Homo sapiens: one gene and its partner. The protein of the gene in region 1 purifies or fractionates together with the protein of each later gene. This does not show direct contact. Each region holds a gene or a part of one and is shown in the gene's direction. Other genes may lie near its edges.

The links.
Region 2: the proteins of ZNF691 (region 1) and PDCL3 purify together in Homo sapiens (affinity purification with mass spectrometry; one large-scale study listed by BioGRID and IntAct). This does not show direct contact.

What each region holds. Positions count from the first base shown.
Region 1 is NC_000001.11:42,849,611-42,852,988, forward strand, and holds the end of ZNF691 (zinc finger protein 691), read left to right. Parts: 5' UTR 1-48; coding exon 49-132; exon of another isoform or gene 133-1,076; coding exon of another isoform or gene 1,077-1,133; intron 1,134-1,339; coding exon 1,340-2,203; 3' UTR 2,204-2,867; downstream 2,868-3,378. UniProt on the Homo sapiens protein: May be involved in transcriptional regulation.
Region 2 is NC_000002.12:100,572,980-100,577,239, forward strand, and holds the end of PDCL3 (phosducin-like protein 3), read left to right. Parts: intron 1-3,374; coding exon 3,375-3,517; 3' UTR 3,518-3,760; downstream 3,761-4,260. UniProt on the Homo sapiens protein: Acts as a chaperone for the angiogenic VEGF receptor KDR/VEGFR2, increasing its abundance by inhibiting its ubiquitination and degradation.

The sequences.
Region 1 (3,378 bases):
ATCAGTGTCCTATGATAGTTTGTGCTTCCCTCCCTCATCCCTTTGTTCATGTCACTCTGTTCACCAACCCACTCTGCTGAAATGTCGTTATTTCTTCAAGGCCCGGAGGAAATGCTACCACTCTCATCAGAGGTACTTTTCCCCCCAACTCTTTCCCTGTCCTTGGCTGTAGGAACCCAAAGGAGTCTGTGCAGCTTAGCACACATTAGTGATGTTTGCACAAATCAGGACCTGTACTGGGCACTCTTATGTGTTTAGTTTTGGGGTGGGGTGTGGGGAGTGTGGTTTGTGTGTCTGTGTCTGTGTTTATCTTTGTGTGTACTTGGTATGTGAGTGTGTGTCTGTGTGTGGTGTATGGGTATATGTGTATAGACATGTATGTAGCTATATATGTGTGTGGCTGTGGTATGTGGCTATATGTGGTATGAGTGTGTATGTAGTATGTATGTGTGTGGTGTGATAATGTATGGCTGTGTGTGGTGTGTAGGTGTATAGCTGTTGTGTGTGGTATGAGAATGTGACCGAGTATGTCAGGTATGTGAGTATGACCGTGTTACGTGAGAATATGGCTTTGTGTATGGTGTGACTGTGTCTGTGTGATTCTGCTTGCTTGTGTGCATGCATGCGTGTGTGGGCGGGGGGTGTGGGTGGGGCTTTGTATGGTGTTTGAGAATGTAGTGGAGGGCACTGACTGATCAGAAGAAACACAGCCCAGGCCCCACAGTAGGTCCTGGAGGTCCCAGGTATTAACCCAGATGTTTACTTGCTAGATTCTGGTGTGGGCTGGAGAGGGGTAGAGTGGCAGAAATCTCAAGAAAAGCCAAAGCTGGGCCTTGTCACCTAGGAAAGCCTCAAGATTTAGAGGTTTTGTTTTGTTCATTTTGAAAGCAGGCATATAGGTAGATACTTGTAAGGAAGGTTTTTCAAAAAGGATTAAACATAAAAAGAGTTACAGTTAACTTACAGTTAGGCAGAAAAATTGAACTTATCCCAAAATGAAAGCTCTTTTACTTGCCCATGAATTATAGTCTGGATTGTCATTGCTTAGTGGTTTCAAGAAGAGTGACATTATTCAAATGGCACAAATATCATCTGGTGGTGGTGGACAAAGCCGGTGCCTTCTTTTTGCTCTGGTGGGTAGCTTTAAATATCTCTGAAAGTTTGTCACTTAAAAGGTAGCAAGTAAAGGTATTCTATCCAAGTATTCCAGTTGATTGAGGTTATTTCTAATGGATGGTCCCATGGGGAAGGTGTATACCCTTCAAACTGAACAAAAGATTCCCTGTGATCTGGCCCAACCCAAAGAATAAAGGTGTTGGCCATTTGTGTTCATTCTCAGGGTTCAGAGATGGGCAGTGAGAAGGAGCAGAGTCCAGAACCACACCTGCCTGAGGAAGGGGAAGGGGGTAAGCCTTGGAGAGTGGATGACTCAGAGGGTTCTTGGATCCCACCTGGGGAGAAGGAGCATGGGCAAGAGAGCCTGTCGGATGAACTGCAAGAAACTCATCCAAAAAAGCCATGGCAGAAAGTCACTGTCCGGGCTCGAGAGCTAGGGGACCCCATTGCTCATCCAAGGCATGAGGCAGATGAGAAGCCCTTTATATGTGCCCAGTGTGGCAAAACCTTCAATAATACCTCCAACCTGAGAACACACCAGCGGATCCACACTGGTGAGAAGCCTTACAAGTGTTCTGAATGTGGCAAGAGCTTCTCGAGAAGCTCCAACCGCATCCGGCACGAGCGGATCCACCTGGAAGAGAAACACTACAAATGCCCCAAGTGCCAGGAGAGCTTTCGGCGGCGCTCAGACCTCACCACGCACCAGCAAGATCACCTAGGCAAGCGGCCATACCGCTGTGACATCTGTGGCAAGAGCTTCAGCCAGAGTGCCACGCTAGCTGTGCATCACCGGACCCACCTGGAGCCAGCACCCTACATCTGCTGTGAGTGTGGGAAGAGCTTCAGCAACAGCTCCAGCTTTGGCGTGCATCACCGCACCCACACAGGTGAGAGACCTTATGAGTGCACTGAGTGTGGGCGGACCTTCAGCGATATCTCCAACTTTGGAGCACACCAGCGGACCCACAGAGGGGAGAAGCCCTACCGGTGCACTGTGTGTGGGAAACACTTCTCCCGGAGCTCGAATCTCATCCGCCACCAGAAAACTCACTTGGGCGAACAGGCTGGGAAAGATTCCAGCTGAAGGAGAGCCCCATTTAGAGTGAGGGAGAGAGAGTGAGAGACCCTAACCTATTGGAGGAAGATCTTCAGCATCTTTTGCTGCTACCTTGACCTCAAGCCCTTCATCCCACTTTGGAGAATGGTTTTGTATAGCCTCTGAAGTCAGGATCTCAGGAAGTCCTGAGGAGGGACTCTGGAATAAAAACCCTTGCCTCTTTCCAGGCCAATTTCTCGTGTTGGAAAGTCAGAAGACCCAGTCTTGGCTTTACTTTCTTGGGGTGAAAGAGAAATAGGGTAGGCTCAGAACATGCTCATGTTATTAAGGCAGCAGTCCCCCTGGCCTTTGAGGAAGTACTTATGAGATGGGTGTCACTGTCTGAAGGTTCTCCAAATTGTCTGTGAACTGCTTAGGTAGGAGTGCACTGCAGTTTCCTGCTAGTTCCCACCTGTTGTGCCCCAACTTTGCTTCTAGATCTCTGGGGTGGGAGGAGTGACCTTCTCAATGGAAGGGGCCTCCTTGGTCTGGAGAAGAGATCTGAGGTCCCACCTTAGAAATGAAAGGGAAACCCTCAGGGAGCCATGACCCAGGGACCTTCACACTCCCCCATGTTTGTTACTTGTTATCCCTCCCCCAACCTGCCTCTGTTTTCCCCAGAGTGATTAGCAGTAAAACCCTTCAATGAAAAGGACCCGTGTACTTATTTGGGGAAGTGGGGAGCTGGGGAGATTGTCCCACTGAACCCACTCTGGAAGGGATTTGAATTCTAAGAAAGACAGATGGGTAGATGCTCTGAAAAGCAAAGGAAAGCAGACTGAGTTTCTGGGGCCTTTGAGGAGAAGGGGGAAAGGAAAGGAACTAACATTAATTGAGCATCCACTACATGCGATTAATTCTGTCAGTCACATTTACATTCATTATCTCATGTAGTTCTCACAGCAACTCTCAAAGGAATAAGAAGAGGACATGAAAGTGAGGGAAGATAAAGTCACTTGCTGTGAAGTCATACAGCAAGTACGTTGTGGAGCAGAGTTCAAACTTGGGCCTCCCTGACTGCCAGCTGTTGCTCTTTTCACTACATTTACCTTTTGGCTTCTGAAGGAGGAGCCACTTAGGAGACTTGCCTGGAGTTAGGAGCCAGTGTGGCCTCTTCATATGGCCTTGGGCCATTTGCTCTATGGCAAGTCAGTGCCAAGCAT
Region 2 (4,260 bases), on another chromosome or scaffold:
TTTCAAGCAATTCTCCTGCCTCAGCGTCTCAGGTAGCTGGGATTACAGGCGCCCACCACCACGCTTGGCTAATTTTTGTATTTTTAGTAGGGACAGGTTTTCACCATGTTGGCCAGGCTGGTCTTGAACTCCTGACCTCGTGATCTGCCCGCCACAGCCTCCCAAAGTGCTGAGATTACAGATGTGAGCCACCGCGCCCGGCTGTGTTTTTAAATTCCTTTCTACCTGTTAAACATGGAGGTATCAAAATACATACCCACACAGAACGTGAAGGAGAACCTCAGCCCAGAGGCATTCTTGCCAAGTGAAACTCTTTATCTCTTTATTGAAATAATATTTCCAACTATGCTTTACCAGAAAGACATTTTTAAACATGACTTTATATACTGTACCACTAAGATACTCATCTGGCGGCCGGGTGCGGTGGCTCATGCCTGTAATCCCAGCACTTTGGGAGGCCAAGGCGGGTGGATTGCCTGAGGTCAGGAGTTGGAAACCAGCCTGGCCAACATAGTGAAACCCTGTCTCTACTGAAAATACAAAAAATTAGCTGGGCGTGGTGGCGGGCACTTATAATTCCAGCTACTCGGAGGCTGAGGCAGGAGAATCACTTGACCTGGGAGGCAGAGGTTGCAGTGAGCCAAGATCATGCCATTGCACTCCAGCCTGGGTAACGAGCGAAACTCTATCTCAAAAAAAAAAAAAAAAAGATATTCAGCTGGGGAAAGTATAAATATACAAACATACATAAACACACACATATAGGAGATACATCAGTTACATATTCCAGTGTTCAAAGGCGTACAGCATTTCAAACTAAATACATGTTTGCATCTTATTTTGACCTTTTTTGAATGTACCATGAGGGGAGAGAGAAGTGTGCAATTGTTTTTATTTCTAAAAAAAAGTCTTGAAGTCTAGTGAACTTACATATAACGATTGCTTTGTGTAAGTGAACAGTAACATTAAACACTTATGTACGTATGTGTGGATATATAAAGATATATATATAGAGAGAGATATATATATTTTTTTAATTTTTGAGACAGGGTCTTGCTCTGTCACCCAGGCTGGAGTGCAGTAGCACTATCTTGGCTCACTCCAGCCTCAGCCTCCCGGGTTCAAGCAATTCTCGTGCCTCAGCCTCCTGAGTAGCTGGGACTACAGGCATGTGCCACCATGCCTGGCTAAGTTTTGTATTTTTAGTAGAGACGGTTTCACCGTGTTGCCTAGGCTGGTTGTGAACTCCTGACCTCAAGTGATAAGTGATCCACCTGCCTCAGCCTCCCAAAGTTCTGGGATCACAGGCCTGAGCCACCACATCTGGCTGGATATAAATTCTTGAGTCAGGAATCTGAAGTCTTGTTTTTTTTTTTTTTTAAGAAACAGGTTGAATTTATATAACATTCAACCAAAGTACCTAGAGCCGAAAATACTGGTGTTACTCATCTTCGTGGAACACTTTTTTTTTTTTTACCCAGCATGACTGAGGTATGATGACCAAAACAATTGAATATATTTAAGATATACAACATGGAGATTTAATAGAGGTACAATGTGAAATGATTACCACAATCCAAGTAATTAACCATCCATCATTTCACATAGCTGCCCTCACTGTGGTGAGAATCCTTAAGATCTACTTTCCTAGCAAATTTCAAGTATACAATACGTTATTATTCACTGTAGTTACCATGTTCTACATTAGGTCTTCAGAACTTACCATCTTATAACTGAAAGTTTGTATCCTTGGCCAACATCTCCCATTTCCACTCCTCCCCTGATAACCACCATTCTATTCTCTGTTTCATGGAACACTTTAAGTTAATAAGTAAAATTCAACTGAGCACGTTGGCTGAAGCCTGTAATCCTAGCATGTTGGGAAGCTAAGGCTGGAGGATTGCATGAGGCCAGGAGTTTGAGACCAGCCTGGGCAACATAGCGAGATCCCATGTCTACAAAAAAGAAAGTAGCCAGGTGTGGTGGTGCACACCTGTAGTCTCAGCTGCTAGGGAGATGGGCGGGAGGATCATTTGAACCCAGGAGTTCAAGGTTACAGTGAGCTATGATTGCACCCATAGCACTCTAGCCTGGGTGATGGAGTGAGAGCCTGTCTCCAAAAAAGTAGATTAAGATAAGACTTCAGTAAAATTGGTTTTCAGATTTTTTTTATTTTGAGACAGTCTCGCTGTGTCGCCCAGGCTGGAGTGCAATGGCGCGATCTCGGCTCACTGCAAGCTCCGCCTCCCACGTTCACACCATTCTCCAGCCTCAGCCTCCCGAGTAGCTGGGACTACAGGCACCTGCCACCATGCCTGGCTAATTTTTTGTATTTTTAGTAGAGACGGGGTTTCACCGTGTTAGCCAGGATGGTCTCGATCTCCAGACTTCGTGATCCGCCCACCTTGGCCTCCCAAAGTGCTGGGATTACAGGCATGTGCCACCGCGCCCGGCCTGGTTTTCAGATTTTAATCGATGTGTCCAGTTAGCAGAACTCTCTGCCTTGATGTTCCTTTAAGCGAAGCCATTTGTTGTAGAATCTCTTACGTAGTCCTTTGGTTCTGCCTGGGCTCTTCTCTGAAGTAGGCAAATACATCACTTGATTTTGCTTCACTTGGTCTCAGACCACAAGAATTTTGCTGATTTTAAGAGTGAAGTATTGGAGCTGAGTCTTCAGTTACTGATTCTTTATTATCTGGTGCTTTTTTGATTAGTTGGAACAAATGTGTAAGTTCTAGGGTATCACCATACATTTATTCTTTGACCCCAATAGATTGAGATACTGGACATGAGGCTGAAGAGTTTATTAAAATTGGATTTAATGATTAGATTGCCAGAAGGTCTGTGGAAATTATTTCCTTCAAATTTTTCATGCTGATTTCCTTCCTGGGAAATTGTAGTCATCAGAGGATAGGTTTATTCTTTGTATTTTTGAGACAGGGTCTCGCTCTGTCGTGTAGGCTGGAGTGCAGTGACATGATCATGGTTCACTGCAGCCTTGAACTCCTGGGCTCAAGCGATCCTGCCACTTCAGCCTCCCAAACAGCTGGGATTATAAGCACACACCACCACTGTACCCAGTGAATTTTTATGTTTTATTTACTTTTATTTTTATTGTTGAGACAGTCTCACTGCTGCCCAGGCTGGAGTGCAGTGGTGTGATCTTAAATGTCTGCAACCTCTACCTCCCAGGCTCAGGTGATCCTCCTGCCTCAGCCTCCCAAAGTGTTGGGATTACAGGCGTGAGCCATTGTGCTGGGCCAAATTTCGATAATTGTATTTTCTACTTAGAAAAAACTAGGTTGATGGACTTAGGGCGAGGGAACCTTTGCAGCACAGTGCCTTAGGCAATTTGCTTTTTCTTTACCATATAGAGTTGGAATGGAAACTGTCTGAATCTGGAGCAATTATGACAGACCTGGAGGAAAACCCTAAGAAGCCGATTGAAGACGTGTTGCTGTCCTCAGTGCGGCGCTCTGTCCTCATGAAGAGGGACAGCGATTCCGAGGGTGACTGAGGCTACAGCTTCTATCACATGCCGAACTTTCTTGTGACAAATTGTCTGGATTTTTTAAAAAAGGAAAAAGCAAGAATGAATCCTTGTGGTTTTTAGTTTTGTATAAATTATGTTTCAAATCTTTACATTTTGGAAATAATCATTGCTGGAGATTCTGTTAAATATTTTGGAACTCTTTTTTTTTTTAAATTATAGTATTTCCTCTAAAAAAAATTAAAACCAGCCATTTGTATGGCAAATGTCTGTTTTCCTCATTTATATTTTAAGTAAGCCATAAAACCTAGTCACTATTTTTTGACATATAACTATAAAAAGAAATACAGTTTTAAATGTGAATAAATTATACAGTGGAAAATTGCAGACTAAGCCTTATAGATACATTGTTTATTTTTATTTTATAAAGAGAGCAGTGAGATTATTAAACTACAGGAATGGTCTCTAGGACAAAAGAATGTTAGTATTGAAGAAACAGACAATTTTTGTGAAACATTCCCTTATTGAAGCAATAACTGAAAGTTTCCAGTTTACTGCCATATTTGGTTAAATGTGTTTTCTTGTTAAAATAGTTTATCTCAGACTGTTAACTAATTTTTTTTTTTTTTTGAGATGGAGCTTTTCTGTGTTGCTGAGGCTGGAGTGCAGTGGCACAATCTCAGCTCACTGCAACCTCCACCTCCCGGGTTCAAGCAATTCTCCTGCCTCAGCCTCCTGAGGAGCTGGGATTACAGACGTGCACCATCACG